Regions from separate parts of the Homo sapiens genome. Here region 2 is linked to region 1. The links come from fine-mapping of genetic effects on gene expression. A gene starts in region 1. The other region holds a variant in brackets. All regions are shown on one strand. Distances are between the middles of the regions. Region 1 holds the start of USP12 (ubiquitin specific peptidase 12). Region 2 overlaps USP12 (ubiquitin specific peptidase 12).

Evidence for each region.
Region 2: its variant is fine-mapped to the expression of USP12 in whole blood (INTERVAL, PIP 0.99).

What each region holds. Positions count from the first base shown.
Region 1 is chr13:27,163,955-27,179,752 of GRCh38, forward strand. USP12 (ubiquitin specific peptidase 12) reads right to left here and starts at 7,857. Exons shown (of 9, transcript NM_182488.4): 1 at 7,638-7,857. The coding sequence starts at 7,685. USP12-AS1 (USP12 antisense RNA 1) reads left to right here. Exons shown (of 3, transcript NR_046547.1): 3 at 4,983-5,181. It overlaps USP12-DT (USP12 divergent transcript), which reads left to right and starts at 8,305. Exons shown (of 2, transcript NR_046548.1): 1 at 8,305-8,418. RefSeq lists enhancers at 6,834-6,943, 8,444-8,633, 14,412-14,912 and silencers at 7,184-7,233, 7,264-7,333, 7,404-7,493, 7,554-7,603, 7,744-8,383.
Region 2 is chr13:27,097,692-27,113,489 of GRCh38, forward strand. USP12 (ubiquitin specific peptidase 12) reads right to left here. Exons shown (of 9, transcript NM_182488.4): 3 at 8,040-8,253. Among named protein-coding and RNA genes, the nearest start is that of USP12-AS1, 20 kb to the right of the region's middle. The variant C/T (reference allele first, on the strand shown) is at 6,963.

The sequences.
Region 1 (15,798 bases):
AGTTCCATAAGACCAGAGTTTATCACAGTCGTCTTCATGTTCTCAGAACCTACATGCAGCACGATATAATGTAGGTCTCCATGAATCCTTCCTCAAAATACTTTAGAAAAAGCACTCTTTATCCCTACAAAAAGGAAAAAAAAAAAAATCACTAGCATCAGGTAGAGGCTTAGTAGGTCACTAAAATAAAAAGCACTAAAATAAAATCAAAGGCAACAGTACTCTAACTCTACTGAAAGATATTATGATTTAAACCACCCTTTACAAGTAGAGAATGTGTGGATGCTTCCTCTACCCATGAAGCATTTCAGTTAAGAACATCTGTCCATTATCACTGAAATAAACATCTACTTCTTGTTTTCAGTTGGAAATAAATTTTTATTGGTACGTAGCTTTGGACATGTGGCTCACTACAGATAAATAAAGCAAGCTTACACATCTCTTCTTTAGACATAACATACTGTTTAGAAGAAGCTAATGGTCCTTCTGAAAGAGAAGCAGCAGCAAAGCATAAGCCAAGGAACAGAGAGGGCTATACCACCTCACACAGTGGTGCTCTACATTAAATTTCTTATAGTTTACACTATCACAAAAGTCTTCGAGTTTTGCTGTGAGAAAGCAAAGACTTACTAGTTTTTCTTCCTAAATAAATGTATATAAACTGCCACTCTAACCTCCTAAAGCAAATTCTGCACATAAGATAGCAAATGGTCAAATGTTATATGTAAGTTTTTCAACAATACTGGGACTCCAATAGAGAGTTTTCAGTTCAGCAAGTGTAACTCTTCATAATACAACTCTTCACTTACTACTTTCTCCCAACACCTTTAAAGTATGGTGTAGATATGTAAATATCCCTCTTCTAGACTAGGAGATTGGGACTGTAGGTTTTAGACAAGATATCTAAGAGCAAGGTGGGTAAGTTCAATGTAAGCCAACAAGAGATGTTATTCCCTTGTTATGCTCCCTAAAGGATAGAGCATAAGGAAATTAAATATAATAATATGGCCTCAGTAAACAGAAAAATCTGAAAGAAAATAAGTCCTGAAGCTAACTTGAATGCACACACCTTGTTCTAGTAATGACAAAAAGCTGGTGTGCTTTTTTTTTTTTTTAGTATAAAATAAGGTAAGATAGATTTTTCTTCTAAAAGTATTAGATTGTTGCAAAAGTAATTGTGGTTTTTGCCATTCTCAACTTATCTAAACTTGTAAAATATGTTTGAGAATGTCACAAATTAGACCAGTTATTTTTGTTCCCAGATAAAAGAAATAAATTATTCTATGAACTATTCAAAATAGAGAAAGAAGACAATCTACATTCTCAGCTTTCATATTATGAATTAATCCACTCAATTTCAAAATAAATTAGTGCTTTCTCAGGGGTATATACTACTAATAAACTAACGTTTCTTATAATGAAAAGGAACTGACAATTGTATTTCACAAAACAAATTTCCATTTTGGTTAGTATATGTTGAGCTAACAGATTAATTAGTAGTGCCAATGAATACTTTTTACCACAGGGAGGGGAGCAAATCATGTTAAAGGGCAGTAACAGCCAACATGACACAGTGATTACCATGGGCCAGGTACTAGTCAACAACCCTATGAACTAGATGTTATTTTACTCTCACTTTACAGGTACAGAGAAGTAACTTGTCCAAGGTCATACTCATAACTAAAGAAATAAACATGGAACCTCAAAAAAATTCAAATCCCTTAATGGTACTGGCAAAGAAAAAAGTGTCAAAAATTAGCAAATAGCTTTGTGAATTATTAGGCTGTTGGTGACGAAAATGGTGGTATCAGTAACCTCCAGTTTTAAAGAAAGAAAAATGTATTTAGACTGTAAAAACTAGGGAACTAAGTGAAATTCTTGCTTAATTATGTCTGATTCTATGCTTTTTATGTTATCTAAAACATAATTAGAACTCCCAAGATGTTCTAGAAATGGGCTACAGAGCAAAAAAAATAATAATAATTTTTTAAAAAAGAGCTCCTAAAATGATGAAAATGATACCAATAATCATTTATAAACTACTAAAGGATCAGAATTTTAGACCTAGAAGGAGACAAGCATATAAGGAATATCTATTAAAGAGTATCTAGTCCAATCCCTTTATTTCACAGATGAGAAAAATTAACTCGAAGTTTTAAGAAACTTTCCCATATATACACATCTAAATGTCAAAATCTGGACTAGAATTTACCTTCTGGTCCAACTGCTCTTTTCATTATACCATGCTGTCAAATACATAACAAAATACCATATTAAGTTTCTGGAATAGAGCTGCTAAAAGAGAAACCAAAACAAAATTAGATTATTTAAATCTAAAAAGGTTTCTGGAAAGGAATTATACAAAGTATACAAATGCTTAAAAGATACTTCCTGAGACAATAAAAGTTTCAGAAGAGCTAGAATAAATATGAGTTTAAAGGCAGGAAGAAAGGAATTTGGTAAATGACAAAAAGGAGGCAGACTCAGTTTGGGGGGACTTGGTCAAAAGTCTAGAATCAAATAAGGCAACAAGAAATGTGACATCATCTCGCTGCAACTGGCCAACATGGATCATGGTAGGGCAGATAATTAACCTACTTTGAGACCTATTAGCCACTTATTAGCAAAAGGTGGAAAGAGAAAGTCACCAGAAGGTAAGCAAAGCCATATGATATAAAATAAGACCATAATATTTATACACATGCCACATAATTGAATATGGTATTTAAAACTAGAGTTTTCAAGCATATTAAAAATTTCAGATCATAACAAGTCTTATCTTTGTGATAACTAAGTGCCTAAGATTAGAATAAACCACCTCTTATAAAATTCCATTTCTGCTAACTATATCACTTTACCCTCTAATAATCATTAAACATATAACCTGTCAACGCCCTAGTACCCTACCACTATGCTTTATTGGGCTCATCTCACCACCTCATCATTTTATAACATTAAACTCATGTTCATCCTAAAATTGGGCAAATTTTAGGATGGGCATGAATGATGATAATGATAACATGATAATCATTCGTGGGTAAACAGTGTAAAACTATATCTAGGGAATACAACTCAAGTTTTTTAAAAAGTTAAATAAAATATGCTCTGGCCAGCCTGACCAACATGGAGAAACCCCATCTCTACTAAAAATACAAAAATTAGCTGGGCGTGGTGGCACATGCCTGTAATCCCAGCTACTCGGGAGGCTGAGGCAGGGGAATCACTTGAACCTGGGAGGTGGAGGTTGCGGTGAGCCAAGATTGCAGCATTGCACTCCAGCCTGGGCAACAAGAGTGAAACTCCGTCTCAAAAAAAAAATAAAATAAATAAATAAATAACATATCCTCTGGGAGGTAAAAATTGACCTTCCTTTTGCTTTCTTGGAGTTTTTATATTTTCCAGATTTTCTATGAGAATGTATCATTTTTAATGTCCAAAATGTATTTTAGACAAATTCAAAAGATGAGTGGGCTTAAATAAAACTTCTATTAATACTTCTTCTAAATGTTCTCTCTCCACCAAGCTCAAACATTCCTTTGACCAAACATTTATGTAATAGAAGATTCCTTATTTTTGAGGTTTTCTTATTTTTTTTAAAGGCTTAAGAAGCTTAAGTTTTGTTCCCTTCTTAAATTAACACAGCAAAATTAGATAAGTAAAACAATGGCAACTCACATTTGAATGCTCCTATCATAGAAGTACTATTTTACTAATAAAATATTAATTTACAAATAAATATTTTATTAATAAAAGAACTACATCCACCCTATTTCTTGAGAAGGAAAAAGAAATTTCATTATTTAATATAATATTCTTGTTATATGAAGAGGAGACTTTCACACACACACATTCCCAACAACGCATGGGCTCTGAGGTTTGCCCCAGCTTTCCTTTTTTTCAGTAGTAAGGATAAATTGCACTGACCACACATACCCTTACCTGGATCCCAGTGAGACTGAGCAGTAAGAAAAGGCAAACATTTTCCATGTATGTCCTTTCTAATTTATGTTTTTAAAAATCGTGTTATTAAAACAGAGCAAACAAAAAAGAAAAGACAGCCAGTTTCACCTGTGCCTTTCTTCAGCAAGTAAAGTTTACCATGCTCAGGGTGCTGTGCTAGGCACAGGCTTTCTCAGAAGAAAAGCCCGTGGGACTCTCCTAGCACCTACCTTTACCAGCTTTGGCCTCATTACCACCATGTTCTAATGGATCTAATCTCATGCCCTTGTAACCGAGGGTGGGCAAGCAGCCAGGCCAGTGCCACCCCATGATCTAACTCTACCCACCTCCTGCACCAACAACTTCTCCGTTGTCTGGTCCCCCTCCCAACAACGCCTTCCTAACCATGACTCCTACAACCCAAACAGGAAGAGACAATAATGATCAGAGGCAGAGCTAACATTTATGGAGCTAACAGTAAGTAGTGCCAGCTCCAAAGCAGGGGCTGTCCTGACCACTACTGCATGCCCATGACGGACCACCCGGATTAGCCACCTCAACTGCAAAACACAGCCTCTCTACATGTATTCTGTCACTTTTCCCGTTATTTCACACTTATTAAGTATAATATTAAATATCAGGTAGGCAGGTACTCCGTGCCAGGCCCTGAAGTCTGAAACTACTTCAAAGGCAAAATAAACACTATGTGATACTGAAAATGTATTATTTCATAGACAAATTAAAAACAGGTATTTCAAGAGGTACCCTTGAAAATGTACTCACTGCAATCTAAACATAATCACTCATTTGGTTCAGGCTATAATACTAACTTATGAAAAACAAGTTTTACTAATTTTCACATGTAAGCACAACACTAGTGATCTAAAATAAGACACAGCTGAAGAGAATTGTTTTTAACAGTTACTTAACCCAATTAAGGTATTGCAGATTTGCCCAGGTACGTTATTTTGACAAATGAAAAAATTATGTACACTTCAGTACTTATAGAATAAAATTTCAACTCATCCTAAATGTTTTCACAGCTGCTGATTCTGAGAAGTGTTCTGTTTAAGTCCAGCCCATCTTCTCTCCACCATTCCACACACACACAGCCACATCATCCCTGCTTCACCCGGCATACCAGGAGGAGGCAGGAAGGACTTTGGAAAACTTTTATACTGAATGCAGAACTTGGTACTCCAGATCAAACTGCAGAAGTAAATGATAATCCTTCCCCTTCAAGGCCCTCACAATTGAGTAAGAGTTCAAAGAAAAATTTACTGCACAGTAAGTATGATAAGTGCTACTGAGATTACAAAAATGCCATGAAACTGTATGAAGGGGATGGAGGGTCGGGTTGGACAGGGGTAGGATTATTCAAGTAAGGCTCCCTGCTTAAGAGACAGGCACACACACTCGCCAGACAAGAAGGATACGGGGTGTGGCAGGGAGGAGCGTTCCAAGCCTAGCAAAACAGCACCTACAAAGCCAAAGAGGTATCTTTGCTTTTCAATTTTGTGATTCTCAGAGGACAAATGGCAATTTTCTTTAAAGAATAAGACTGCAAATTACTTTGAGATATTCAGCACTATTTGGGGGTACATTCGAATGTATTCAAATATGAATACAGACACACCCAATTTTAATAGTACCTTTGGAACGATCTCATTTGGCCAGGCATTTTCTGTATTTGCCAACAATACACACGCCCCACATGTAATTAATGTATCTGGATGGAAGCCCTAGAAAGAGCTTCTGATTTGACATCCTTGGGATCAGAATCCCACTTACTAAGTGTGTGACCCTGGCAAATCCCTGTGTCTCACTGTCCTAATCTGATTACAGCATACATTTATTGTTTACCTGAATACTGTTTGTGTCCATGAGCAAGAATGTAAACACCAAGAAAACAGGGGCTGCCCTGACCAATACTGCATCCCCAGTACTCAGCGTCGCCTCTAGCACTTAGTGGCTGCTAAGTGTATACTTGATATACAGTACTTGAGTGAATGAACAGTCGGTAAAGAGTATCACACCACTCCTGAAATCTAGTCTTTGACAATGAACTATGACCCATACAATGTGTGTAGCTCAGCCATGTGGCAAAATTGTCACTGTAAAAGACCTAATTATCGCATTCCTTTTGAAATTGACTAAGATAATAATTGGCGTATCTAAAAATAATTAGCCCAAACAATTCTCCAAAATCATTTTAATATAGTCCATTTAATACAAATGCTTTCCTAAAATGTAAACTGTGAGAAAGAACAATCATCCAGTTGGGAAATGGAGTCTTCAATGATTCATCCTTCAATATGATTTCTTTAATACTGTCGATTTTATGTCCACCTGATTTCAGTCATTTTTTGTACTGTTCCTCAGCGTGTAGTAGAGAATCTGCTTTTTAAGGCATCTTTCAGATCTGATTCACCACTCCTTAAAGAAAAATATATACAATGTACCACCCTTAGATGGAAAATTTCTTGGGGATCTCCTATATGAAATCAGTTGCATAAATAGGGCCAGTGAGGCATGAAACACAAGATTTCAGAAGTCTCTAATAACAACCACTAGGCCCACGTTGCAAAGAACAACTTTTTTCGGTGATGACTCATAAATTATGATCCCTACATATAAGCTCATGAGGAACTAATGAAACGAATTTGTCTCATCATGTGGAAAACTGTGGTCCTTCTGGCCACGCACAAAACACCAAGTTTTAAACGCGCCCACGTTTTGCTTAATTCGGGACTTCCAGCGGGCATTAGCACTTTTCCCTTACAGTCTATTTAAACGCCCTAGGAAAACAAATACCATCGCCTTGGCAGGCGGTCCCCGCACAGACAGACCTAGCTCCAGCCACATACAGATGTGTCTGGTGGGCTGAAGTAAACAAATGACAGGAAAGCTAATGCTGCTTTTCAAGATTAACGTGCATTCCCAGAGACAAGACTGCCACCTGGACACACGGCTGGAAACGGGAGAGCTCGTGCCTCTCAGAGGAGAAAATGGAGAGAATTTCAACAGTACTTATTTAAAGTTTCCACCTTCACACACGCCCCTTTCCCCCAGCGCGGGGTCGGGGACTCGGCCCAGCCAGCGGCGCGAGGAAATCTGCACTTGACTTCCGTCCTCTCCCAGGCGGGAATGAGCGCTGCCCGCCCCGGCCGAGACCCTTCCTTCCTGCCCGCCGACCCCCACCCCTCCCGGGGACCCCTCCCGCTCGGCGCGCGACCAGAAGGAAATGGAGCCCGCGCGGCTCCGCGCCCCCTCCCCGACGACCCCGGCCCGGGGCCGCGCTCTGGCTCGCGCGCGCCCACCCCTCACCCCGGCACAGGCCGGGCGCGCCTCGGCCCTCGTCCCCGCGTCCCGAGCGGACCCCAGCAGTTCAGCCGGGGACTCCCGGAGGCCGGTGCCCGCCCGACGCCGCGTCTGGCACGGTCGCCCACTCACCGCTACCCTCGCGCCGCCCTGGCCCACCAGGCGGCGCCCCCTCCCCAGCCGCCTGGGCCGCTCACCCCCGCGCTCCCCGCCTGCGCGCCGTCCAACCGCCCCCGCCCGGGCCGCCCGGGCCGCCCAGCCCGCCCGCCCGCCCCGGCGCTAGGCCCCGCGAGCGGCCACTGGGAGAGGCGGGTCCAGCGCCGCCCGCCCGCCCGAGAGGTCCCGGCAGCCCCGGCCGCCCGCTCGCCGCCACCTACCATGGTACAGATGGAGGCGAATTTGGAGACTGTCATTAGGATTTCCATCCGGCCAGCGCCATCTTCCACCCAATCACAGCGGCGGCGGCGGGCGGGGGAGGAGGGGAGCCGGGCCGCCCGCTCGCACCGCAGCCCGCGGGCGGACCCCGAGCCGCCGCGGACCCAACCACCGAGCCCGCTGGGCCGCCGCTGCCGTCGTCGCCGCCGGCGCTCAGGCACTCCCGGCCTCGGGCCCCAGCCCCCGCCTGCCGGCCGCCGGCCCGCCCCCGGCTCCGCCCCGGCGCAGGGCGCAGCCGCTGCCTCCGGGCCCGCGCCTGCACGCGAAGCCGCCCTCCGCCCACCCCGCCCAGCGCACAGGGGAGCGGGCTCCGCCGAGGCCCTAATGCCCGGCCTGCCAGGCAGCGGCGCGGCCAGGCGGCGCAGCCCCGCCCACCCCTCGGCAACCCCTCCGCGGCCCTTGTGCGCGAGCCGGGGAACTCCGGTCCGTCCCCACCCCGCGCGCGGCAGAGGGCAGGACCGAAGGCGGGCGCCACCTCCTGCCCGCGTCCCTGCGGTCCTAGAGCCGGGGACCCAGAGACCCCCGCGTAGGAAGGGGTGCGGCGGGGAGGCGCGGGGGTGGCGGCGGCGATCTGGGAGAACCCTGGAGGGGACCAGCTGCGACACCCACCGCGGGCGAGGGGACGGCGAGCCCCCGCTGCCTAAACAGAAAACGGAGGCGATGATCTGGGTAACTACGGGCGGAGTGGGAGGAAACCTGCTCTGCACAGTTAAGATAACCCGGGTATGCGTCCCAAGCACTTGGTTTGTTTCTTTTTACGTATATTGGATGAATCACCGGAGTCAAACACAACTTAGAAAAAGACAAAATAATTAAACAAAAATGAAGAGGCAAAGAACAAATTACACATGTTTAACTCTTTGAATTAAGAAGAAAGATAAGTAATGGGGGAAGGAGAGGAGCGAAACCTGTTGGCCTGTTGGCGATAAATTTATAATAGGCTTCTAAATATCTGCACATTGAGCTGCAAAATAGGGAGGATCTCAAGCCAGCAGTGATGATGATATTACCAGAGACAGGAAGCCCGCAAGCAAGAAAAATGCCCTGTGAGAAATCCTTAGGCAGTGCTGGCTACTGGCATGGGTAGTTCCTCTTTCTCCTTTTATAAAATTCATATTTGCACCCTGTTCTTCATGCCTGGCAGCTCAGCTTTATTTTTTCCTATTTGAGAAAGTAGTTCAAGTGAGTAGAATAACTTCATAAATTATTATGTTAGAAAGCTTGTGATATTTTCTGATTGAACTCGTGATGGGGTACTTTTCTGGGTTCCCCTAATTCAGTGGGGTTGAGGATCTGAATTCAGGCAGAGCTGTAAAATCAGAAATGCCTCACCTCAAGGGTTCAAAGCACTCAAAAACAAAAAGCATTCAAACAAAATTTAAGTGAAAAATAGACTTCTGGTACATGAATACTGTTTCCATAGTGATTCCATTATAAGCTTGCTTGGGGGGGGAATGCAGATTGAATATAGCCAAGCCCCATGGTAGCCGGACTGGATCTCCAAGCGCCTGCCTCCATGGAAGCCAAGAGCCCTGATACCCCAGCCAGGGGCTTTCCTCTCTATACTTGCAAGCATCACCCACCTGAATTCTTTCTTGCTCTTTTCTACCCCCTGTTTGGACAAGGGTTTCTACATCTTAGACCTCTAGGGCCTACCTGGGCCTTGTCCGAGTGTCACCATGCCCATCTGTGTGCCCGTCCTGATAAATAGCTGTGGTCATCCTGTCCTTCCCACTTGCTGTTCTATTCCAGCAAACAGGTCTGATGTGCCAGAATTTTAGACCTGCCTCCATCCCGCTAACCACCCATATGCCTCCTTGTCCATTAATCCGAACATGTCACAGGAACAAAAGCCACTGGCTTTACATATAAGTTTATATAAGAACAAGGCCTTTCTAAAATGAATTTCTAGGCTGAGTATGGTGGCTCACACCTGTAATTCCAGCACTTTGGGAGGCCGAGGCAGGTGGATCACTTGAGGTCAGGAGTTGGAGACCAGCCTGGCCAACGTGGTGAAATCCCGTCTCTACTAAAATACAAAAATTAGCCAGGCGTAGCAGTGTACGCCTGTAATCCCAGCTACTCAGGAGGCTGAGGCATAAGAATAGATTGGATCCTGGAGGTGGAGATTGCAGTGAACTGGGATTGTGCCATTGCACCCCAGCCTGGGTGACAGAGTGAGACTCTCTCAAAAATAAATAAATAAATAAATTTCTAGGCTGGGCACAGTGGATCAGGCCTGTAATCCCAGCACTTTGGGAGGCTGAGGCAGGAGGATGGCTTCCAACTTCCTTGAGACCAGGGAGTTCAAGACCAGCCTGGGCAACATAGTGAGACCTTGTCTCTACTAAAAATAAAAATAAATACGTGGTGCATGGTGGCGCATACCTATAGTCCCAGCTACTTGTGAGGCGAAGTAAGAGGATAACTTAAGCCCGAGATATCCAGGTTGCAGTGAGCCATGATTGAACCACTGCACTGTAGCCTGAGCGACAGACTGAAACAGTATCTCAAAAATACAGCACAGTGGCTCTCGCCTGTTGTAATCCCAGCACTTTGGGAGGCCAAGGCGGGCGGATCACTTGAGGTCAGGAGTTTGAGACCAACCTGGCCAACATGGAGAAAGCCCATCTCTACTAAAACTACAAAAATTAGTTGGGCATGGTGGCGAGCACCTGTAATCCAAGCTACTAGGGAGGCTGAGGCAGGAGAGTCGCATGAACCTGGGAAAAACCAGTGAGCCGAGATCATGCTACTGCACTCCAGCTTGGGCGACAGAGTAAGATTCCGTCTCAAAAATTAAATTAAATTAAATTTTAAAAAGTAAAATGGATTTCTGATAGAATTATCTGGAGTCATGTCTAGTTGATGTTGGAGCCATCTAAATTCACAGGTAAAGTCATGAAACCTAATCACAGAGCCTCACAATGCCTTGTCTCCACAGCCTATGGTCGATTGGAGAGACACAAACATAAAAGAGACATTCTTGAATCTATGTGCTAGGTGTTGTACTGAGTGTTCTTTACCATATGTAATGCAGTTGGAGAATAAGTTTGGCTGAAACTCCACACTTTTGCACCCTGAGCTTGGAAAGGGTAATCTGGCTTTAGAACACAGCTTTACACAGCTGTGTAATCAGCTTTACAAAGAGCTTCCCTGTGCCTAGCAAAAGATGAGTTTGTGTACAACTGACTCCTTTTCGGCCTTCTTGAATATGCAAACTACAAAATATGCCCAGATGCCTCAGGGACCAGGCAAGTAAATGAACTATGTCCAACCTTAATCCATTTAGTCAGCACAGCATTTTATAATGTTTTCATTTGCATACTGTTACACAATCCTACACTCTCCAGTTCCTTACAGTCTGCCTCAAATTTTCCTTTACTCATTCTGTTCAACAGTTTAACACAAGTCACTTTATTATATAGTTCTGCTACCTCTTTTCTCCCTGAAGGCATGTGGGTTTATACCAGCTCACATAAATGATTCGTGAAGCTTTGCTTGTGATGGGTTGGGAAAGAAAGTGATGGGGAGTGGTCCAAGAAGGGGTGTAAACATTTTATCTAATCCTTGCAACAACCTAATGAAGCAGGTGTTACGATTATCCCCACGTTTAGATAAGGAAACCAAGGCACAGAGATAACTTTTCCAGGGTTGCACAACTAACTAGTAAGCAATGGAACCAAGGTTTGAACCTAGCTCCAGGAGCCACACCTGTGTCCACTCCACTACACTAGCTTTGTAAAAGTATTTTATTTTGATTCTGACAGGATGAGGTTGAGAGGCACGACTCCTTTCGGACTTGCATGAAGGTTTAAGCTACAAAAAAAAAATACTCAAATCGATATTTCTTTGTTTCACTTTCCTCATCTGGAAAATAAGGGTAATAATTATGTTACAACGATAAAACATGTTTCAAATAGTGCCTGGCGCTCAACACAAAATGGAAAGTTTAGAATGGACATTCAAAGTCAACATTTTAAAAGTTGGGGGGCCGTGCGCAGTGGCTCATGCCTGTAATCCCAGCACTTTGGGAGGCCGAGGCAGGCAGATCACGAGGTCAGGACATCAAGACCATCCTGGCTAACCCGGTGAAACCCCTTCTCTACTAAAAAATACAAAAAATTAGCCGGGCATGGTGGCGGGCGCCTGTAGTCCCAGCTACTCGGGAGGCTGAGGCAGGAGAATGGCGTGAACCTGGATGGCAGAGCTTGCAGTGAGCCAAGGTCGCGCCACTGCACTCCAGCCTGGGCAACCGAGCGAGACTCCGTCTCAAAAAAAAAAAAATTTAAAAAAAAAAAAAGTTGGGGTGGGCAAATACAGCCCTCGGGCTGCCAGCTTGCTCCTCCAGATTTAATGAGCCTCTGCTATGTGCCAGCCACCTGCTTAGTACTTCAGATACATATTCCAATGTAACCCTTACGATGACCTTACAGATCCATCATTTCATACTTATTTTACACACAGGGGAATATGACATTCATCATTGCACTAACCAGCACATACAGGGCCAGGATCCACACAAAGGCTCTGACTCTAAAACCTGTGGTCTCTCCGCTTCTTTACCCAACCTCTTAATAGTTGAAGGAATCAGTCGTCTTAGTGGCATTCATTAATATCACCCAGTCATCAAGCAGTAGATGTCAATCAAAACAGTAAATTTTTTATTGGCTTGAATCAACAAATCAGCGACTTTTCAGGCCTTTCCTTTCTTTTCTTTTTCTTTTTTTCTTTTCTTTCTTTTTTTTTTTGAGACGGATTAATTTTGGGATTACAGGCATGAGCCACCACACCCGGCTAATTTTGTATTTTTAGTAGAGACAGGGTTTCACCATGTTGGCCAGGCTGGTCTCGAACAGTGCTGACCTCCAAGCAACACGATACATTTCAAGGCTCCTCAAGCACTAACAGATATTCTGCCTGCTTCTCTGAATCTCTTCTTTGGGTTGGAGTTTCCCATTTTCTTTTCAGCATTTGCTCAGCTCTAATGAGAAAGTTTATCAGGGGAAAAAAAATAGCACAAGAAAAGGAAACATCCTCTGGACTCCGAGAAGCCTCCGGCATCTAGGTCTAACTTCCCCATTCCCAACTCTGATTTTCTTGATTTGTGCCCTTAGAGTTTTTCCTTTGGATACATCTTCCTTCATCTTGCCTTCTCTCTACTACCTACTTCTCAAATTTTTCAGAGTAGTTTTTCTATATGTTTTACCAGGGTTTAACCATTTGTTGGAGTTTGTATGGGAAACCTTTGGCTCTACCTTGTCATTTTGCTGTCACTTTCACATTCAGATTTGCATTTTAGCACCCACGGGGCCTCCTTGCCACTTGACCTTCATCAGCCTACCTAGGGTACCTAGGGAGAGGTAATGTGCCACGTTGGGGTTTCCTGAAATGTTCAAGCTGAATCCTCAGCTGATGAAATACACACAGTTTCTACTTCTTCTTTAAAAAAAAAAAAAAAAACTCTATTAAAATAGCTAAGCACAGCAATGTTAAACCAAATAAAAAATTCCAAAATATATTTAGCATGAAGAAACTCCTGTCATATACACAAGAAACTGTTAACGGTGATTTCCTGGAATGAGGAAGTAGGAACTAGGGGAGAAGGTGGAGGAGGGAATTTTTACTGTATACTTTTTTAGTTACACATGCGAATATACAACTATTTCAAAATTTCAGTAAATGGAGTATTTTTAAGACTTAAAAGACATATTTATGTGACATTATTTTTAAATTACTAGGGCACAGTTAACATTTTTTTTTCTTTTTAAAAGTAATGTATTGGCCAGGCCCACTGGTTCACACCTGTAATCCCAGCACTTTGGGAGGCCGAGGCTGGCAGATCACGAGGTCAGGAGTTCGAGACCAGCATGACCAATATGGTGAAACCCCATCTCTACTAAAAAATACAAAAATTAGCCGGGCATGGTGGCACGCGCCTGTAATCCCAGCTACTCAGAAGGCTGAGGCAGGAGAATCACTTGAACCCGGAAGGCAGAGGTTGCAGTGAGCCAAGATCACACCATTGCACTCCAGCCTGAGCAACAGAGCAAGGCTGTCTCAAAATAAAAATGTATTTTGAGCCTAGTTTAACTCTGATTCCTCTCTGCCTAAGTAGACCATACACTTGAACCCCCATGCTCCCTCCTTAGGGCTCTCTCGAGGTACTTATCTTCCACTTTCATTGGCTCTGACTGTCTTAGTAAAGAAAGAAAACAATCTCTTTATACATGAAGTAAAGGACAAGCATCTATTTGCCTGCTTCAAGAGGGCTGGCCTTGGGTTGTTCTTCCAGCACTATCAAAAGGAAGAGGTTATGGGGGAAGTGAGAGGTGGAAGAAGGGAAGTGAACCTCAAAATTTCTCACTGTTTTCATGTTCCTGCCTCTCCATCCTCAAGACCCAAAGAGAAAAGAGATGCAGTGGGCCCCAGTCTATCACGTGATCAGTGCCCTCACCTGCCCACTAGGCGGTTCTGTCGCTGCCTTTTTCCCAGCATGGGAAGAGCACTTGCTCCTCTAAGCTCCTCTCCATCTTAACCTTTTCTGGTTTGCTTGCTTATTTTTTAGAATAATTTACTTTGGCCTTTCCCAATTCCCTCTGGTCAAGTCTGCTAGGTATGTTGTGCACTTTTATTTCCTTTTTGTGTTTTTTAACAACAATTACACACAGGAGCAGATATATCTGCTTTCTGCCACAAACCTTGAGGATACACAAATGACAGATTTACGAGAATTTTTTTTAAAAGGTCTTCCAGGTAACAAGTAAATGCACATGTGTCTCTCCAAAGCTCCAACCAGGGCTGCTTCTCCAGCCAACCTGCCGCAGACTGGCACGCAATTCCCCCAGAGCCACTTCTTCCTCTCTTCTGTTGCTGGTAAACAGCAAGGAGTTTTGCATCTTAAGGATTCTATTGTTAATTGTTCCTGGGAAACAGGAAATAGACAATAAAATAATGAATATGGGAAAGTCAAAGTTTATAAAGCTCTGTAGTAGGGATAGTTGACCCTGAAATACTACAGGGTTTCAAGTTAAGACTTAGGGTGTCCGAAGGCTTGATTGACTCCCCCTGTACACACACACAAACACACATGCAAGATGTTCAGTTTGTGATTCTTTTTTCTTCTTTTCTTTCTTTCTTTCTTTTTTTTTTTTTTTTTGAGACTTAGTCTCACTCTGTCACCCAGGCTGGAGTGCACTGGTGCGATCTTGGCTAACTGCAACCTTCACCTCCCGGGTTCAAGCAATTCTCCTGCCTTAGCCTCCCAAGTAGCTGGGATTACAGGAGTGTACCACCACAGCCAGCTAATTTTTGTGTTTTTAGTAGAGATGGGGTTTCACCATGTTGGCCAGGCTGGTCTCGAACTCCAGACCTCAGGTGATCTGCCCGCCTCGGCCTCCCAAAGTACTGGGATTACAGGCATGAGCCACCATGCCCAGCCAGTTTGTGATTCTGAACAAGCTCTTAACTTTCTCAACTCCAGTTTCCTCATTATACAATGGTGAAGACCCCTACTTCATCATGTTGTTGAAAGGATTAAATATGATATTGTACATAAGTTCTCAGCACCAGACCAAGCCCACAAGGAGATAAAAGGAATGCACGGTTGTTCACCTGGAATCTTCACCTGTTCTTAACAGGACACTTCAGTCAAAATAGCTTGTGATTCCTTGACTCAAGAGGTAATGAATTTCCAACAGCCAAAAGGTGGAAACAACCCGCATGTCCATTGACAGAAGAATAGATAAACAAAATGTAATATAAACGTACAATGGATTATTATTCAGCCTTAACAATAAATGGTATTTCAACACATGCTACAACACGAATAAACCTTGAGGATGTTACGCTAAGTGAAATAAACCAGTCACAAAATGACAAATATTATATGATTCCATACAGTATTCCATGTGTATGAGGTACCTAGAGTAGTCAAATTCATAGAGCCAGAAAGGACAATGGCAGTTGCCAGGGACTTGGGAAGAAGGGCAGGGAGAGTTATGGTTTAATGGGCACAGTTTCAGTTTTCCAAGATGAAAAGAATTCTGGAGATGGATGGATGGTTGCACAACAGTGTAACTGTCCTTAATGCGGCTGGGCATG
Region 2 (15,798 bases), 66 kb before region 1:
TACCTGTACCTCACAAGGCTGGGAGGAAGATTAAAAGTGCTTAGAATACAACAATAGGTTTTGTATTCTGTTCAACAACAACCACAGTAACAATATTGGCAATATCACTACATGTTGAATATCCTTTATCTAAAATGCTTGGGACCAGCAGTGGTTGGGACTTCAGACTGCTTCAGATTTGAGAATATTTTCATACACATAATGAGATATTTTGGGGATGTGACTCAAATCTAAACATGAAATTCATTTGTTTCATATACACCTTATAGCCTGGAGGTAACTTTATATAGTACTTTTTTTTTTTTTTTTTTGAGATGGAGTTTTGCTCTTGTTGCCCAGGATGGAGTGCAACTTCATATAGTATTTTTAAAAACTTTGTGCAGGGAAGTAAATTTGTGTACACTGAACCATCAGAAAGTAAAGTTGTTACTACCTCAGCCACCCCATGTGGCATCATGCAGCTCAAAAAGTTTCAGATTTCTGGATTACGGATGCTCAACCTATATAATTGTTGTTGCTACTGAACAGAATACAAAACACATCAAAGACTGACTATGTAAAAACTATGAACTTCTGTATGGCAAAGTCAACATAAATGAAGACAAGTGACGAACAAGGATAATTATTTGCATATTAATATCCAGACTATGTAAAGGTTTAATATACAGAATATTTAAAAAAAAACCCTTTACAAAACAAGAAAAAAAATTTTAAAAACTGGCAAAGGAAAATAGCCAATTCAGAGTAGAAATACAAATGCCTAAATAATACATGACAAGGGACTGGGAAATAACAATTAAAACAATGACAAAATATCATTTTGCCCATCACTTTGGCAAAATAAAAATTGACTTAGTTTCCATCCAGTGTTAGCTTGAGTATGGAGAAATGGACATTCTCAACTGTTGCTGCTGGGAGTATAAACTGGTATGGCACGTTGTAAAGGCAATTTTGGTAACAGATTTAAAATAATGCAACCTAGTTCTCCCAGGTATCGATGCCAGGTAAGTATCTGTGCATGTACCAAAACAAGCATAAATACGGCTGCTTATTTATAACAGCAGAAGTCTGAAAATATCCTAAATGTTTATCAACAGGAGAATGATTTATTTAAATTATGCTATAATTTTGTTAGGGAATGCTGGGCAACGGTTAAAATGGAAACAGTTCCATTGAATTAACATGGCAAAACTTCCAAAACAGAAAGTGAAACAAGGATGCTGAACACATGTGGATCCCACTCATGAAAAACAAACAACCGGCTGGAAGCAGTGGCTCATGTCTGTAATCCCAGCACTTTGTGAGTCTGAGGGGGGCAGATCACCTGAGGTCAGGAGTTCAAGACCAGCCTGACCAACATGGTGAAACCCCATCTCCACTAAAAATAGTTCCCATAAAATGTAACTGTGGCTTCCTATTTGGACATATATATTTAAGTGCATAGAAAAGGGTTTTTGGTAGCATCAAGGTATTTCAAAGGAAGACGAGATTGAGGAGCTGGGGAGGAAGCAGAGAGCACTCAGGGAAACTTCTAGGTTTGTTTGGTACTGAAATGTTATTGTAAGAATGTATGCATGTATTATTTGCATGCTTAAAAATAACATAGAGCTTTCCATACAAAAAGTCCACTTCCTCGCTCCCTGTCACTGCCTGTTACACATTCCTTTATTTTTTTAAGAGATGGGGGTCTCGCTATGTTGTCCAGGCTGATCTTGAACTCCTAGGCTCAAGCAATCTGCCTGTCTATTGCATATTCTTCATAAACAATTACTTCCCAAACCCTTTCAATTTTTAAAGTTCATTTCCTGCATGTCTAGTCTGTTCCATTTCCATTTAAATCTACCTAGTTCAAGTCACCTCCCTTCACTTAACCCACTAAGTCTCCTTTCCTTCAGTTTCACACTGCAAATAGACAAGTTTAATTTATAGACCCTGAATCTTTCTCCCTAGGAATTTTCCCTGATATCTCTTGCATTACATGGTAAAATTCACAATAATTTTTTTTCACGTTCATTATTTAGTTATTTTCATATATCCAAATCCATTCCACAAATTTGGGTCTCAAATCAAATACAATAATATTAAGAATGCAACTGAAGCCACAGTTCACTTCTCTGCTGTAAGTTTAGCCTGAGGGACCCATTAGCCTTTAGCAAAATCCCCATGTTATGTTTAAAAACAATAAAAGTCATGAGTTCTAAGAGCTCCGTACTAGCCTACATGGACTTAACAACTAATCTTGAATTTGGTACACTGTGTGTGGGTTTTTGTCCACAAGAGATAGTAGATCTAAAGCACTGGGACACCATTCCCCTCTCCCTGCTCAGAGTAGAAGTCTATGCAACCTCTCTCAACACTGAGACAGCCTGCAACTCAAAAATCTTCTCAGCAGTCCACTCCATCCCTCCGAGGCCGGGCCAAGTCATGCATAGAACCTTGCGTGGTTCCACCAATTGGAAAAGTCTAGACCACAGCTAAGCTAACTGAAGCAAATTATCTAACCTTGCCCTTCAATGCAATAATCCTCCGTCCCTGAAAATAATAACCATTTCCCCTCTCAGCCTCAATCTCCTATCCTCTACTACTCTCATTTGCTTATTGCACCTTATTTCCTTTCTCATCCTTGGGATTTTCTTTGTTCCCAACCCTTTCTAAGTTGCTCATTCTAGGTCCTCCATTCTGTTCTAAACAAACTCCCTCGCCTTATCAACCTTTGGCATTTTCTAGTTTCCTACTGCTACTTGCTCTCAATCACAAAAGTGCCCAAGATACAGCCATACTATGACCCTCAACCCTCCTCTCTCTGAGGTCATCTCCCTCCTCCTCATCCACTGATGGCCTGATTCAGTTTCTCTCTCCACTTTGCCTCCTGCACCAACCTTGACATGTCAGTGTCTAGGCAGCTTCCTGACGTGCATGCACCTCAATCCCGTACAATTCAAGAACCTTTATCTCTCACTCACCCACCCATTTCCGGGTCACAAATCTGGAACCACCCACCTCAAACAGGTCCACTAAGGCAAGGAGTGGAAGATAATTATGCTAAAGTTGAGTTGAGGGGCTGAAGAAAAGTTGGAAACCAACTGGAAAAGTCCTAGAGGAATCTAAAAAGAAGAATAATCAGGGAGAACTAGTAAAAAGATTTTATAAACACTGCTGAGGACCTAGTTAAGGTTAGAGATGAATAATTCCCTACAGCGGCTAACTACATATTGGCTTGATGCCACAATCTGAAGTAGCCTAATTTCTCCCTGTTGAAAAGAATTTTAGCATATACATGTTTTTCAAAATAATTACTTTTTAAGCAAAAATGTGCAAATGTTTTTGCTTTTTAAAAATGTACATCTTTTTCTGGATGCTCTTTTAACACAGAGCAATGATTTCATATTCACAAAAATACCTCCAATGACTTGAATGCTCTGGAAATGAGAGGCAAAGTAAACCAAAAAAATAATCTTTAAACTTTTGTTGAAATATTTCTAAGATTATTTGTAGTCCATTTTCCTTAGAGTATACTGAATATGCCAGAATTTTGCTGTATGTGAAAGCAGCCATTATAGTTTTAAAAGCGTCAACCAGGACTGTATAAACATCAAAATAACACTGATGAATGACCTCAGGACAATCCCTGTGAACTGTATTATATTTAATTTTTAAAACCCTGGTTTTCTTATGGTTTGCTTTCTTCTTTGCTAAGTAGCATGATGGGAAAGGTGGACTTCAAACTTGCTTTGGAAGTTAAACAATTTCATTCATTCATTCACTCATTCAATAAATATTTAGTAAGCACCTACTATGTGCCAGGAACTGGATTATGTGCTGGGAATACAATGGTGAGCAAAAACAAATGGGTTCCCTCCGTCATGGAACTGACAGTCTAGTGGGAGAGACAGACAATTTCATTATTAAATAAATGTATGATTATAAACTACTATAGTCCTGATATAGCTGCAACAATAATGCAAAAAAAAATGAAAAACACTGCTTAAAAATAGGTTATGTTCTCCTCATAATTCAGAAATAGCTATAAGCTCTCATTACACAAAATACCATTTATGCTCTTTTGGAGAAAAAGAATTGTTTGAAATAAACATAAGAAATTATTTACTCAAATATATTTAACAGGTATTATTTGTGAACAACTAAAATTTCCTCACTTGAGGGAGACCAAGACTTAAATTTATCTGTTTTTGTATCTCTCCACGGCACATGAAACGCTGCTTGTCCATGCAGGTTCCTTAAGAACAAGGACCCTTTCTATCTCATCCCTAGGACTGACAACCGTGCCTGCCACATAATGAGATGTATTTCCCATTTTTTAATGAATGAATGAATGAATGAATGAATGAATGGACAATAGGGATTGAAACAACTAAGATGATGACAGAAAAGTAGATCTGCCCCCAAACAATAACTGAAATGACTGACACTGCTAAGGTTCAGTGAGTCAGAGCACACAACTACAGATGCCAGCTGATGTGGCCCTCAGGCCCACCTAAAATGATCCCAAACAGTCCAGTTGAGGGTCAACTCTAGCTAACACAATCAGATCACCATCCTATGTTGTATTTCTTCCAAAATAATAGTAGATCACCCACAGGCAGTACCTGTAAAGAGAGGACTCCATTTCCTACCTGGGTACTGCAACAGCCTCCAGGCTGGTCTCCTGCCTCTACTCTCATGCTGCCCAGGCCCACCCAGCAGCCAAAGGGTCTTCTCAAACAAATCAGAACGTATCACCCACCTGCTCAGAACCCTCTCGTGGTTTCCCATGGCTTTCCAAATAAAACCCAAGCTTTAGGCCCCTGTTCTTCTGACTTTATCTTCATCTTATTCCACTCTTGCCATGCTAATTTTCTTTCCATCCTTCAAGCACTCAGGCAACCTGCACTTTCTTCCTACTGATGGTAACATTTTTGCCTCAGATCTTAAAATGATGTCTTCAAATTTCTGATCTAACATTACCTAATCAGGGACATTTCCCAATGACTGACATATGAACTAGCAACTCCCTCATCCTCTGTCCCCTTTCCCAGTCTTCTTTTTTTCGTGACAGTGACACATTACATCACACAATTGATGGCTGTCTGCTTCCCCACGAGGGTGTCAGGTACCTGAAGGCATATTTCTGTATCATCAGTTCCTAAACAGTGTCTGGCACACAACAGGAAATATATCTATCATGATTAGTCTACTCAAACACTCAGCTAGCATCCATCCCATCAGCAGGTAACATGCATGGAGCCACTGTTGCTGTACTCTATGCAGGAGCACTGTGCAACAGTCCTCTTATGCTATGATTAGGTAACATGAGTTAAAACTGTAAAAACAAAAATTCATTAATAAATAGAAATTAAAATCAGTTCTTTCCAGGACCATCAAAAAGATTAGTAACATAAAGCAATGGTGGTTAAAACAATATGGGGCTAATATCTATTGAGAATAAAATTTTTAACATAGTATGGCAGGAAATTAATTTAGTAAGAACCATCTACCAGTGAAAGTCAGTGGAAATACTGAAATGAGTAACATACTTTCCAAAGATTTAAAACAAACAAAATCTCAGAAGGAAAGATATGCAATGAATAATATATTAAATCCTCTTTGATTTGTATATTCTTCTCTACACAATTCTCAAGGGAAAATTCAAAAGCCAAAAATATATTTCAAAACATATTTGCAAATGTCAGCAACATCAAATAATAAAAATGCTTTTCTATTAAAAAAATGGCTTTTCTATTAAGCATTATTTCTGAAGTTTAGAAAAATGAAGCAAAACTTATGAGAAGATGGGCTTAGAATATTTATTCTAGAATCAGTCTCTTTCAAAGAAGTATTTAAGAACTCTATTGTGTTACCAATTCAATCTGCCTAAATACAAAAAGAATTAGTAACTATTGAACTATCAAAAAAAAAAATAATAATAATAATAATAATAAGGCCAGACACAGTGGCTCATGCCTGTAATCCAACACTTTGGGAGACTGAGGTGGGTCATTTGAGGCCAGGAGTTCAAGACTAGTCTGGGCAACATAATGAGACCCCATCTCTACCAAAAAAAAAAAAAAAAAGAGAGAGAGACAGAGAGAGAAAGAGATGAAAAAAGAAAAAAAGCCCATTTGGAAAAAATAACGAACACTGTAAAAATACCCCAGGTTTGACAAACAAACATATAAAGCCATAAGTATGTAACTGTATTTTACCTCTGTTCAGCATGAGGGTCAATCTAACTAAGATAACATCATTGTATAAAGAGCCCATGTGATAGGTTAATAAGGCCAAGAGAAATGTACTATTAAATGAAAAGGGAAATAATGTATGCTCTGTATGAGCTGCATACTTCTGAACTCTTTTTTTTTAGAGACAGGGTCTTGCTCTGTTACCCAAGCTGGAGAGTGGCGCAATCAGGGCTCACTGCAGCTTCAACCTCCTGGGCTCAAGCGATCCTGCCACCTTAGCCTTCCAAGTAGCTGGGACTACAGATGTGCACCACCACATCCGATTAATTTTTAAAATTTTTTGTGAGACAAGGTCTTGCTTTGCTGCTGAGGCTAGTCTCAAACTCTTGGGCTCAAGCAGTCCACCTACCTTGGCCTCCCAAAGTGCTGGGATTATAGGTGTGAGCCACCGTGTCCAGTCACTGAACATTTTTAAAATACTAATAAAGTCACTGAGAAAGGGTGCCATGTTCAATTACCAAATACATAAATTTTCCACAAGGACAAAACTTTTAAAGTTTTGTACAGACACACACAAAAAGACTGAGAAGACTTAACTGCTCAATCCACATTTGAGCATTAAGGTTATATTTGATTTTCTAAAAAAACAAGATAAACAGATCTATAATCTAATAAAGTACATACGTTTAGCTTTCATTAGGGGAAACAAGATGTATTTTTATGAGCAATTAATCAAATTATTCTACATGTGTATGTGGGGAAAATGAACAAATCTTCAACAAA[C/T]GTATCAAATTCAAGAATAATAGCCTATAGCCTATTTCTGGGTCATCTTATATTTCAGCGAACTAGATATGATCCAGGCTTACCTCAATTCACTGTGTACAGTGTCAACTGACTAATTTAAAGGCAGGATTACGCAATAGGGTATTTAATAATCCATCTTAATGACTTCCCAAATCCTGCTTGTGAGCGTCTACTTAATAGGTAACAAATCAACTAAAAATGCCATTCAATTTTCTTTCTACAATGATTAAAATGCCTACATTAAACAAAAGCCAGAATTCTACATGTTATCTAAATTCCATTTGAATTTTTGAGGCAGTGTCCCACATTAGATAGAACACTGGGCTTACATATCAGGGAGAAGTAAGTTTGTATACCAGCTCCACCACTTACTAACTCTGTGGGACCTTGGACGAATTAACCTCTCTGAGCCTCAGTTATTTCATAGGGTGATAATGTCCAACTTATTGGCATGTGAAAATTAAATGAACAATATTTCAAAAAAGAAAAGGGAGGTGGGGCTTACTCAGTAACTATTTTAAAAAGGGGTTGGGGGATTAAAACTTATCTACCCTAAGCCAAAAGGTCTTTTCTAGCTCCTTCCCCGGAGTGTGGCTCCTGGCAAGCCTTTTTTAGGTTTTGATTTTTCACGGCTAAAATGGGGGAAATGACATGCTCTCTATCTAAGGCTACTGCAAGGATCCAATGAGTTAACACACATGAAAGCATTATGAAAACAAATGCATAAGCATGCAAAAAAAAAGAAACAAAAACCCTTCATTCTTGACAGAAAAGCCAAGCAAGCAAAAAGAGAAACTGTGATTTCTCATTTGCTGCCACACAGAATTTTATCACTGTATAACGCAATGCAAACATTAACCGTATCTTGTATTAATTACTGTAAGACTATCTCCTTCACTAAACGAGTGCCTCTTTGAAGAAAGGCGTGTCATCCTTGTTTCTTCAACAGCTAACATGTTATCAGGCATACAGATGATGCTCAGTAAGTGCTGGAATTATGGCACACTATATTTAACCTTCCTAGTATGTCATTAATACAGTGGGAAGTAGAATTACCATTTTCTTTCCGTAATCTTGTGATGAACTTCTTAGGGGGTATTACTCCAACCTTTTTCTTCTGAGTGGCTATGCTATGGAAGAGATCTGCTAAGCATGTAAGAAGGCTCTCCTTTTTCCTAGGTTGACTCTTATACGCAAGAACTTTTTCCCGAAATGGACGACAAAAATAAAGTGCTTGAAGAACTGAATTGCAGTAGCAGGTATTCCCAAACTGCAACAGAAAAAAAAAAGTTTTGTTAAATTTAGGGCAACACATTTTCAAGAGAGAAATTCCCGGTATATGGTTGAGAACAGAAAGAGATGACAATCGGTTACTACTGTTACTATAACACTGACTGCATTATATTATACATTTTAAAATACAACTCTCAAAAATTCTTTGGAAATCACAAAAGTAAAGTTTTCTATCAGGTTCTTAGGTACATCCAAATTAAAACACACAAAAACAAAAAATAAAAAAAACAAGATCCCCTGAAACGTTACATGAAAAAGTCACCAGTATGACAGTCTAGCAACCACTGAAATGCCAAGTCACAGTATTCATGATGTATTGGAAAGACATCAAATCCTTAACTATGAATTTCTCTCTTACCAGCCATGTCATTGGGGTATGTCACTACATCTTACTGAACTCTACTCCTCTCCACTCTAGTAATTGGGGCGAGACGGGGGAGGGGGCGGGCGGGGAAATAAACCTACTTTATAAAGTAAATGACACACAGTTTCATAAATATGTATTGCCTTCCTTTTCCCTTCCATTAATAAACACTGGCTCTAAAAGCTATAAAACAGCTAAAAGTCAGTCATGAAGATTTGGGGAGCACTATGAAACTATAAAAAAGGAATGAGGATAATTCTCATATTTCTACTATGGGGTGAAATCAAGTATATACAGTATTAGGTTAAAAAGGCTAGGCAGAGAAAAATGTTTAAGATTGGGTGATATCAAATGTATGTCCATAGACCATTTATTTTTTTTAAAAAAATGAGGAAGGATAAACAAAAAGCTAACAAAAATGTTTATAGGAGAAGAGGAAAAATAATGGAGAGATGGATAAAAATGAGACTTCTCTGAAAGAATGTTGTTATAAAACATTTACTTTGTACCCCCTATCTTTTCTAAAATAAAAAAGAAATGTCTAAAATTAAAAACAAAAATAAACAAAACCTAAATGTATATGGATTTAATGGTAGAAATAAAGAGAAATTAATTATTTCAGGTGACTTAAAGAATGTTTACCATACATGCCTAATGAGATATAGTCTAATCATTTTAAAAAACAAAAACAGCAACAACAAAAAATCTACTGGCCAGACGCAGTGGCTCACACCTGTAATCCCAGCACTTTGGGAGGCCGAGGCAGGCGGATCACTTGAGGTTAGAAGTTCGAGACCAACTTGATCAACATGGTGAAACCCCATCTCTACTAAAAATACAAAAATTAGCTAGGCATGATGACACATGCCTGTGATTCCAACTACTCAGGAGGCTGAGGTATGAGAATCGCTTGAACCTGGGAGGCGGAGGCTGCAGTGAGCCAAGATCGCACCACTGCACTCCGGCTTGGATGACAAAGTGAGACTCTGTCTCAAAAACAAACAAACAAAAAAAACAAATTTATTGATATTGTTATTTTGAAACTATTGTAGCTATATCATAGGACAAAGCAAACAAGGAATTATGTTAATACCCTTAGGAACCAAAATTTTTAATGTAAAGGAAAAAAAGATGCTATAATAAAAATCAGAAAAATAAAAGCCTTGTAAACTTCAGTTAGAAATATCAACATAAACTTATAACTCTGAAAATGTATGTCTGTGTGCATGCATGCATGTTTGTGTGTACGTGTTTTCAAATTCTGTCCACTGAAAAGGTGTGGCAGCAACAAGTTTCTCCTATACCCAGATTGTGTTCTCTAAACACCCTTTTCCCATCCAAAAGAACTCGGACACCTTGAAGATATGGCTGATACAAGATCTGCGATAAGAAATGTACAATGTGCCTTCTCAAAAGAAGACATTTATGCAGCCAAAAGACACATGAAAAAATGCTCATCATCACTGGCCATCAGAGAAATGCAAATCAAAACCACAATGAGATACCATCTCACACCAGTTGGAATGGCAATCATTAAAAAGTCAGGAAACAACAGGTGCTGGAGAGGATGTGGAGAAATAGGAACACTTTTACACTGTTGGTGGGACTGTAAACTAGTTCAACCATTGTGGAAGTCAGTGTGGTGATTCCTCAGGGATCTAGAACTAGAAATACCATTTGACCCAGCCATCCCATTACTGGGTATATACCCAAAGGACTACAAATCATGCTGCTATAAAGACACATGCACACATATGTTTATTGCGGCACTATTCACAATAGCAAAGACTTGGAACCAACCCAAATGTCCAACAATGATAGACTGGATTAAGAAAATGTGGCACATATACACCATGGAATACTATGCAGCCATAAAAAATGATGAGTTCATGTCCTTTGTAGGGACATGGATGAAATTGGAAATCATCATTCTCAGGAAACTATCGCAAGGACAAAAAACCAAACACCGCATGTTCTTACTCATAGATGGGAATTGAACAATGAGAACACATGGACAAAGGAAGGGGAACATCACACTCTGAGGACTGTTGTGGGGTGGGGGGAGAGGGGAGGGATAGCATTAGGAGATATACCTAATGCTAAATGAGGAGTTAATGGGTGCAGCACACCAGCATGGCACATGTATACATATGTAGCTAACCTGCACATTGTGCACATGTACCCTAAAACTTAAAGCATAAAAAAAAAAAAAGAAATGTACAATGTGCAAGATTAGCCTGGGATATCTTAAATATAAGTGTCAACTTTAATACAAAAGGATTACTGCAATGGACCAAAACACACCAACTATACAAAAATTCATAAATTTAAAATGACATTTTAGGCTGGGTACAATGGCTCATGCCTGTAATCCCAGCACTTTGGGAGGCCAAGGCAGGTGGATCAGTTGCGGTCAGGAGTTTAAGACTAGCCTGGCCAACATGGTGAAACCCTGTCTCTAACTGAAATTACAAAAATTAGCCGGGTGTGGTGGCACGCACCTATAATCCCAGCTACTCAGGAAGCTGGGGTGGTAGAGGCAGAGGTTGCAGTGAGCCAAGATGGTACCACTGTACTCGGGCTTGGGCGACAGAATGAGACTTTCTCCACAAAAAAAGATACATATGTGTGTGTGTGTGTATATACACATAATGACATTTTTTTAAAAAGCAGCCCTCTTTAGTCTCCATTGACAATTGCAAACTAATATATAAAAGGAAAAACATTCAAGATTCATCTTGCCTTTCTTATAAGAACCATATTTCAGGGGCACTAAACAGTTGATGAAGGAAGTTTCTGTTTATAAAATAAGTCCAGTGAATAAAATCAGAAGAAATGGTTGTAAATAATGGATTAAGCAATAATTATCAATGGATGCTCAAAGCATTAGGTTAAAAGTTGATGGGGATGTTTAAAACAGAGTGAACAGACCTAAACACCCCAGCGATTTCAGCATTGCTCAAGTGAACAACTGAATATTGTGTGTCTTTTAATATATCTTACCTCCTATGAAGTATTCTTGCCTTAAGCAAAATCACTAAACTTTAATCAAGTCTCTACGTGTAACTACTAATTTACAAGACAGTCAACAGTCAGGCAATGAAAGAGACAATACCACAAAGAAGGAAAAGGCCAAGTTTGAAATGGGAATAGTCTCTAGGACAGATGACCTAGTTTCTCCACAAATTGATGACTTGAAAAAAGGTTGAAAAGGACTCAAGAGACACAACAATCAAATTGCAAATGTAAATGCTGGAGTTTACTTAGATCCTGATTTACAAACCAACTATAAAAAGTCATCTTTGGCTGGGCGCAGTGGCTCAAGCCTGTAATCCCAGCACTTTGGGAGGCCGAGGTGGGTGGATTAAGGTCAGGAGCTCAAGACCAGCCTGGCCAACATGGTGAAACCCCGTCTCTACTAAAAATACAAAAACTAGCCGGGCGTTTTACTCCTGTAATCCCAGCTACTCGGGAGGCTGAGACAGGAGAATCGCTGGAACACGGGAGGCTGAGGTTGCAGTGAGCCGAGATGGTGCCGCCATTGCACTCCAGCCTGGGCGACACAGTGAGACTCTGTCTCCAAAAAAAAAAAAAAGTCATCTTTGAGACAAAAGAAGATACTTGAATCAATCCAATACCACTGCATTGGATGATATTAAGAAATTGTTGACTTTGTTAGGTGTGATCATTAGGTGATCATATTTTTTAAAACGTTCCTGCCACTTTGAGACATGTAATTAAACGTGTCCCATTTATGGCCAAAATGCCATGATGACTAGGATTTCCTTTTCCAGGTAAAAAAAAAAAAAAAAAAAGGATAAGTGGAAGAGAAGGAAAATATTGGTAATTGTTCAAGCTAGGTTGATGGGTTCATAGTGATTCATTATATTTACCTCTCCTACTCTAGCTTTTCAAAGGAGGTGTTTAATCTTTGAGGTAAATTGTATAATCATGTCATTATGTGTCACAATCATTGCAAATAAAGGACCTAACCAGATAAGTTCATAGGGAAGACAGACACTAGGCAGAGCCAATAATTTGAGGGGATAAAACAAAGCTCTGCTATGTTCAATCTCCTAATTGTCTGAATATGTTTCTTTTTTTCCACAGAGATTAAACAAATAAGATCCCTCTGCCCCACTGAAACAGGAGTTACCAACTTTTTGAAGAGGCTTGTGAGATCCAACCCCTCTCCAGCTGAGGACCTGAGACCTAGTGAGGACAATGACTTCTCATATCTACACTGCTAGTAGGAGACAAGCACTGGTTTCAGAAAAAGAGGCGCTTAAGCTTAAGAGGTATGTGATTAAAGCGTACTGATATCAATGATCATAAATGTAACTACAGATACACTTCAATGAACCCTACCCAGGGGTTAAGTACAACTGAATGTTACTAAGATTAATTTACCCAGTATCCAGTATAAATCTGTCTTTAAAATTGTATTTGTACTACAATCTAATCAAGCTAACGACCAACAAATCTGGTTATATCAATTGAAGAGAAGATACAATCTCCATATTTTGGAATAGGCAACAGGGGAATTGAACAACTTCCACCGAGCAGGGAGATGAAAGCAAAAGAGATCATCTCCAAGTATACCAGAAATATTATGATAATGAGGATTGACCTATCTATAAAAAATATGAGAAGCAAATAGGATAGGCTAAAAAACTAGAGGGAGTCTCTATTTTGTAGACTACTGGAAGTCAGGCTCACACTTCTGTCCAACATGACTTGCTCATCTTCTGAATATAAAGCAACAGTAATATTATAATCAATTCTCTGAGGCCTGCCATTAGTCTTCTTTTATTTACTTTCATCAATCCCATTAAAGAAAAATTAAAAGGTTGAAAATACTACTCTTTCTCCAGAATAAGCTGACTTTCAATCTTTTTAATAATTTTGAAACTTTTCCTTCAATTTTCTTGATTTTTAATATTAACTTTCATTCAAGGTCCTAAGACCTAAAAATTATCTTTCAAGAGTAGAGCCTTCATGCAAAAGGTTTTCTGGGATGATTTTCTCTATATTCTTGTTTGTGAATGCTCAATTTCTTAAAAAACAAAAAAACATTGCTTTAGTGCTGAAATCTATGCTGTGTTATCTCAGCTGGTTTTGAAAATCAAAGGTAGGTTTAAATTAGGGAGAAGAAATTTTAAAAGTTGCCACCCTACTCGAGGTCTTATCATTGATTTTTTGATTGCTTAGTGAATACAATCTCATTCTTGCTTTCAAAGAGCTTTCTCTAATGCCTTCTTCTCCAAACCTTAACAAACATCCCACCGCAAGTATTTTTTATATACCTACTACTAAGACCATTTTGAGCGCACATCCCTTACACATTTATAAATTATACATACTATGTATATTAAAAATGTAAAGGAATGCAATTAAGAAAATGCACATTTTAGATGTTTGTCTTATTTATTACACACTATTATTTTCATGAAAAATTATTAGTCTTAAGTGAGAGCAATGAGATTGAGTATTTTTGTAAAGGCTTTAGATTTTAAAACAGCAATTTGATAGTCTGTGATGTTCAGTTATTTGGATATGTGGTTTTAATGGCTATCAAAACTGAAAAAGATACCTTCCTAAAGATACATAGGTGCAAGGGAATGAGAGTCTCACTACCTACCTTTACTTTTTAAATCATGGTATCCAATTTGTAGTCTTATCTACCAAATTAGTTTGAATACATTTAGGAAATGCCTGCCTTGAGAGCCCCACAGCACAGTAATGAAGCACATAAGATCTGAAACCAAACTGTCTAGGTTCAAGTCTGGTTCCACTATCTGACCTTGGGAAATTACTAAACTGTTGTTTACCAGTTTCTTCACCTGCAAAAAGGGGGTAATACAGCACCTACCTCTTAGAATTTCTTAAATAATTAAATGAATCATCACATAAAACACTCAGAACAGTTACTGGCCCTTCATCATTTCATAGCTACTTTTTTTTTTTTTTTCCTGAGACAGTGTCTTACTGTCACCCAGGCTGGGGTGCAGTGGTATGATCATGGCTCACTGCAGCCTCAACCTCCTGGACTCAAGATCCTCCCACCTCAGTCTGTGGAGTAACTGGGACCTCAGGCACTCAGGCATGCAAAATGCTCCCAGCATTTTTTTTTTTTTAAGAGACAGGGTCTCACTCTGTTGCCCAGGCTGGTCTCAGATTTCTGGGCTCAAAGCAATCCTCTCGTCTTGGCCTCCCAAAGTGCTGGGATTAAAAGCATGAGCCACTGTGGCCAGCCAATAATAACTTTTAAAACAACCTTTTAAGTTAACTAAAATTCAATCATATAATTCTCTAAAACTACATTTAAATTATAATAGATCTGCCACAGCAGAAACAAATGAGAGAGATGATGCCATCAACCCTTTGACATCATGGAACTTGAAATAACATACAACCATATCATATACAGATAGAGTATAGGCACCAGTCTCATCCATATGTTAAGAATAATGCTTAGTCTACCATTTTTAGATAAAAATAAACATCAGAAATGCTAATATTTTCTTCCTATTCCCAATGGATCATCTTACACACTTCATTTGGAGACTACTAGTTTTAACCACCATAATGTCAATAGCATTACTTTGTTTAAATACTGAGGCTAGGCACAATGGCTCATGCCTGTAATCCCAGCACTTTGGGAGGCTGAGGCAGGAGGATCGCTTGAGACCAGGGATTCAACACCAGCATGGGCAATATAGTGAGACCCCATCTCTACAAAAACCTTAAAAAATTAGCTGAGCATGGTGGTGTGCACCTGTAGTCCCAGCTACTCAGGAGGTAAAGGCAGGAGGACGGCTTGAGCCAAGAAGGTGAAGCTGCAGTGAGCCAGGGAGGCGAAACTGCAGTGAGCCATGATCACTCACTGCACTCCAGCCTGGGTGACAGAGCAAGACCCTTTCTCAAAACAAAAACAAAAACAAACAAACAAACAAACAAAAAACCCAGACAAATAAAAAATAAAAATGTTGAAAAGGAACCGTTTTTGAAGAAGCACAACTTCTTCCCTGTCCCCCATGCTGGGCCTGGGTGATGGTGCCTGTTCTGTGAACATGCTAAGATGTTCTAAGGGAATGCCCTCTTGCACCAACCAGTTCTTGTTTAGGTGACATTTTAGAACATTGTATTTCCACATCC